2 separate regions of the Homo sapiens genome follow, and region 1 is linked to region 2. The links come from fine-mapping of genetic effects on gene expression. Tissue or cell type: skeletal muscle. Region 2 holds a variant in brackets; the other region holds the start of a gene. All regions are shown on one strand. Distances are from middle to middle.

Region 1 (2,915 bases), 220 kb after region 2:
GGAGAGGGCCGAGGCCGGCCGCGAGCGGGTCCTCGGCCGCCGAGTCCGCGCGGGAGGCAGCGCCGCAGCTCCCCGGCCGGACACGGCGCCGCAGCTCGGCGCGTCCTCCTGCTCGGCCGCCGCCGCCTCCAGCCGAGCAGCCAGCGCCGGGCGGCTCCTGGGGTTAAGTCAACATTTTCCCGCAGTTTCCCACACGCCGCTCTTCGAGAGAGGTCTTTCACACACACGCACACACCCCCAGACCGCACGCTCCCTTAGGAAAAAAAAATCGGGAATCAGAGCGAAAGGGGTGGTGGAAGCAAAAGCCTGACAGAGGTGCGCAGACTTGGGAGTCCCTTCGAAGCGACGGGCGGGAGGGCGCCGGGGGCGCGAGGCCAACTCAGTTTGTCAGGCGAAGCCCCTCAGCCCCCCGAGCGCCCGGCCGGAATAGCATCCCTCGCGCCGACCCTGCGGCCTGGGGCGGGAGGCGGCGGCGACCCCTCCTCACATTTCGGATCTCCCGGCCGGGGCTGAGCGGTGGCCGCTGCCCCAAGGAAGGCTGGCGGCGCAGACTCGGGCTCGGGGAAGCAAGGAGTAGCCGGGAAGAGCCACGCCACACACAGCAGCGGAGGGGAGATGCCCCCCAACAATCCCAAGGAATTCTCTGGTAAGCTCCCGATTTCGCCCCAGCACCTCTGCGTGTGTGTGAGCGGAGAGAGAGTGAGAGGGAGCGAGAGGGAGAGAGAGAGAGACGGGGGAATGCGAAGTCCTGACACAGACTCTCCGCGAGGTCTGAACTGGAGTCACCTCCAGCCTCCTCCTCCTCCTTCCCCCAAATCCGCCCTCCCCGCCAGTTGGGCTAATCATATAAACATACTAGCGTGTACAGCGTCAAAGGACAAATCTCTCCCTCCTGAGTTTTCCAGCAAGGGGCTCGGGCAAACTCAAAAGAAGATTACAGGCAGCTAAGTACAAAACGTGGAGCAGATAATCTATAACTCATTGTCGCCCAATGGCCGTTTTCCACTCCATTTGAGCAGCTGCTGCGGCTGTGCGCCCAAGCGGCGGGGAGGAGGAGCGAAAGGGGATACTTACGGGCTCGAGCCCTTCGGACGGCGGTGGCGGTGGCCAAGCAGCCGCCCGAGGACCAGGCCGGCCCCGGCTCCGCCGGCGGGGCGGCCGCAGGGCTGTCCGGGCGGCGGTGGCGGCGAGGGACGCGCGCGCACGGCCGTGGAACGCGCCCCGGAGGCGGCCTGCGCCAGCTCGCGCCCCTCCCCTTCTCTCCCCTCCCAGTCGGTTCGCGCTCCCCCTACCCCCAGGTCCCCGAGCTCTGCCTCCAGCTCCCCCCATTAACACACCCATTCAACCGCTAACCCCTAGCCCACCCCCAAACTCCACTCACTGCGCGCTGGGTCCTCCGCGCGCTCCGCCGGCGCGCGCTCTCCATCCTGTCCACACACATGCACTTTAAAAACATTTATTTTATTTCTGGAGTGGGTGAAGAGTATTTGGGAGAGCGCCGCGAAGCGCGGCGCTCCGAGGCTGAGCGCAGGGGGATGACCAGCGGCTCGGGGCCCCCTCCCCTCTAGGCCCAGGAGCTTGCTCCCGGCCTGGACTTCGGAGAGGCGCCCGGGATGCGTCTTTCACCCACCCCGTCTCCAGGTTTTCTCTTTTCTCCACGCACCGAGCCAGAGGCCCCGAAACTTTTAGTTTCCGTAGCCCTCCTTTTGTGTAACTGCATGGAGGAGAAAGAACGTCTGTTCGCCGCGGCTGCCTCCGTCCGGCTGCGGCGCGCGGGGGACGCTCCAGGGTTAATGCGTCTTTGATACCTGAGATTTCCGGCGCGCTCGTTAATGAAAGTTACATTTTTTTAAATTGCGATGATTTTTTTCTTTGTAGTTACGTAGAGCCAGCTAAACTTTGACTTTATTGACTATATTTCACAAGAGCGTTTTGTTTGTTTTTGATTAAACTCACCAGGATAAGCAAAGGAAGGAAAGGAGACTACAAGGCTCTTTACTCTCAAGTATAGTCACAGAGCTGTTAGGTCTGTTTCCCTCATTTCCTTACATTGAAACTGCCTTTGCTCTTGTCCTCTGAACACACTTCCTTGCCCCTCTCGGTTGGCAATGTCAGCAAACAGCCAGGCAGAGCCTACGATGGACCTAAGCTGAAAGGAACAGAGCAGGACAGGGCGAATCACGCTGGAAAAACGTTTAAAAGCCAGTTAAGTGTCCTGTGCATGCCACAAAATTCAAACATGGATTTTTTTTTTATTGCAAAATTTCTGAGCTGGAAGCAGCTATGTTTTCAGATGTATTTGTAAACCACTGATTCTACTAATGAATGCAGCCATCAATTAAATAAGCATATTTACCTTTTTTTCAAGAAAAAAATGATTCTCCAATATTTAAAACCTAGAAAGTAGGATAAAACTTAAGCTGCTTTGCTTTCAGAAACAATAGGTACTTTTTGGTGCTGCAGGAATGTTGCAAGCATCATACTTCAGGAATCATTCCAAACAATGTTATTAATATGTCAACAGCAGATTGTTCAAAATACATGAAGATCCTAAATACCTATCAGTATTTTGTCAGAAAGCCAGATAGGTGTAGTACTAAAGTAAATCCAATCCAACTACTGGTCAAGTTTGTTCTTGACTTGTAGGAAATCATAGGTTAAATGTACGTGTGTCCAAATAACTAGAACATGTTCTTTTGGTGGTTTCATTGTAATTCTCAGATTAAAAAAGAACCTTTGATAATCTAATTTCTTCTACCTGATGTATTGATGTTTTAATATTCTCACTATTTCAAAAGATAAAAGGAGCAACTTAGAGCATTGGTGCTTTAAACTACATACACACTTACATCTGGAATTTCTTACATAACATAATTCAAATATTAACCACGCAGGATATAAACTAGTCTGGATAA
Region 2 (2,915 bases):
TAATGTGTTATATACACACTTCTACTACAAGTAGTGCTACTGTGTGCCTTGACACATAGTAGGCACTTGATAAATGCTTCTTGAATTGGCTTTCCCCAACAGAAACTGCACAAGAGCCTGAAGAAACAAGCCCCTGATCATGGTTATATTTATAACTGGTTTGATCATTTTGACGGAATTGACAAAATTGTTCAACCAAATTTCTTTTTTTAACAATATGGCTGATTGATATATTGAATTGATTAGACAAAATTCAAATGCAATTCATATTTGCAGTTTGCAACCATTAAGTGGTCTTTGGTGCGAGCCATCAAAAATATTGCTGGGCTACTCATAGCACACCCAGGTCACACCTTAGGAAATTTTTGCCTCAAGTTTTGGGGTTCTTCACTGTGTCTTTTGTAATCACTCCAAGGTGTGTGTCGGGGCTGGATTGTTATAGCAAATGGCAAACTGTGTTAATGGGAATCAGCAAGGAATTTAATTATTTTCCCAATTTCCAAAGGCATGATGTATCACATTAATACTTTTCATTTGCTTTTCCTGCATGCTAGTAGCTGAAAGTGAAATGATGTCCAGGTCCGCAGTGTGTCTGCAAAGGAGTCATAAATTACACCTCTGCACCTTTGCAATGAAAGAGCTGCTCTCTTGATGCTGCTTGTCCACACAGATCGTGGACAGAATGGCACAGTTATAAAAACAAAGTAGATAATGTATTACTCCAAACTTATTCTAGGGGTCACTTTTTAAATCAGGGGATTTTTCTTAAATCATTTCTTTTCTTCAGGGTTGATGGTTTCTGCTGACAAAATCTTCTGAGGTTGTGATTTTTTTTTATGAGCATGTTCAATAGATTTTAGGAGTAGTCTCAATACCTCTGAAATTTGGAAGACAACATACCTGCAACTTTACAATACTGTGATTGGACAAATGAACATTTAATCTTCAAAGAATACAAATCCCTGGGGTAATTCCTAATGGTATGAGACTACAGCCAGCCAGTACTTCTGTGTCACTCCCTGAGCAGTGCAGATGAGGTGCTGTCATCTGAGCTGATGATTCCCACTGTATGAGCCAACTCAACCATGTTCTTAGGATATCAGATTATGTGACCTTGGGCAAAACAAGCCCTAAAT[G/A]TAGGTTGTACAACTGGTAAGTCGTAATCTTCTATTTAGAAATGTTCTGAGAATTACTAGCCAAAATTCCGAAAGCAGTAGAAATTTATAAAAATGCAATTTTTGCCTAAATTCAAAATATTATCTTATCTATAATGTTGAGTATAAAAAGCCAGTTAAAAACAGATTTTCATTTGGGGAAGAGAAAAGGGGGAAAGAGGAAGAGCTAGAGGGCGGAATGAAGGGGAGGAAGGGGGAAGAGAACAAAGAGAAAAGAAGGAAGGTGGGGAGGAGACAAAATTGATTTAGAGGTGTTTAATTCTAGCTATTGAGATTTATATCAATTTCTTTTCTTTTTTGGCTTATTTCTGCCTATTTTCTGTATAACCGCATATGACATAAGCAAAAAAAATTTATGAAAAAATTGATCTCTATAGAAATATCCATAGTACCAGAATTCTTATCAAATCTTTTTGTCAGATCCCAAGATTTTCATTTGTTTAGTTGCTCAAAAAAAGTAGTTACTGATTTCTGTTTAATCTTTTTCATGAAAAACTGACTGGAGAGTAAATCTGAATTTTACTTTTCCACAATATTTATTTTATTAATCTATTCAGACACATCAACCTTATATATCAGATACGAATTGATAGTTCAACTGTTCTTCAAGCTATAAGAGGAATCAATGAATTCTTTCTTTTTAGGAGAGTTCAGCTCCTGGTGCCTTATGGCTACCAAAAGTCTAGGTTTTGAGTAAAATAGGAAATGTTGGCATAGCAGTCATGTTGGTTCTGTTTTTTTGTTTTATTTTGTTGTTGGGTTTTTTATTTTTGTCTTTGGTCTTTGGAGTTTGGGAGGAGTTGTTTTGTTTGTTTTTGTTTTTCATTTTTTGCTTATCTAGCTCTTTTGTTTCTCAATTAAATAACTGGAAAATGTTATGGTGACTTAAACATTAAAGTAGTGTAATAGAAAAAGAACGGAACCTATTGGTAATGGGAAACCCAGCCTCTCTTTCTGGACCTTCCCGTTTGACCACCCAGGTCTGAGTGGCCTGGGAAGGTAATTTCGTGCCTCTGATGCCTCTATTTTCTTACCAGTAAAATAGGACTGAGAGCTGCCCTTCCTACTGCTCAGGGATCTAATAAAAGAACATGGATAGTGAAAGTGCAAAATCCTGTGTACATTTAACAAGCTATATTATCACCTGATTAATTTTTGGCTTCCAATTATTAGTTTGTACAAGGCCCTATGATAAGCACTTTAGAAACATTATATCTTTTAATCCTTAAATGTGCTATAGAATTATTGTCTTTTTTTTTTTTTTAATTATAAAACTCACCAGTTTGGTTTCTGCATTACCCAAGTTCTGCTCATTTGCCACGCTGTCTAGCTGGAGTGACTACAGCAATGGCTAGATTCTGCTCCTCCCACCACGGAGCTGGGTCTCAGCACAGCAGGGTAACATCAACTCAACTCATGCTCTGGGGCTTCTCTGTTGTCACTGAGACCTAAGATGCTGCCATACCCAGGCAGATTTATATCAATTTCTTTTCTTTTTTGGCTTATTTCTGCCTATTTTCTGAATAACCATATATGACATAAGCAAAAAAAATCTTACGAAAAAATTGATCTCTATAGAATGTATATTTAATGTAAAAATCTGTATTTAATGTATTTTTCTTTCTCCTGCTCCACTTTCCATACTGTTTGGAGTCACAGGAGCTTCATTCAGCTTCTCGGAAGATATTCTGAGAAACTGAGCAGTCAGCCGATCACAAAACTCCCATAAAGTATTAGCAC

Alleles and levels. Alleles are on the strand shown, and positions count from the first base shown. SD is a standard deviation of normalised expression in the study named.
For the expression in skeletal muscle of the gene that starts at base 1,209 in region 1, allele G in region 2 goes with a lower level than allele A (moderate effect, 0.53 SD a copy in GTEx).

Evidence for each region.
Region 1: ADGRL2 starts here. The variant in region 2 is fine-mapped to the expression of ADGRL2 in skeletal muscle (GTEx, PIP above 0.99).

Annotation. Positions count from the first base shown.
Region 1 is chr1:81,799,228-81,802,142 of GRCh38, reverse strand. It overlaps ADGRL2 (adhesion G protein-coupled receptor L2), which reads right to left and starts at 1,209. Exons shown (of 24, transcript NM_001366006.2): 1 at 1,075-1,209.
Region 2 is chr1:82,016,669-82,019,583 of GRCh38, reverse strand. No RefSeq gene overlaps it. Among named protein-coding and RNA genes, the nearest start is that of ADGRL2, 220 kb to the right of the region's middle. The variant G/A (reference allele first, on the strand shown) is at 1,137.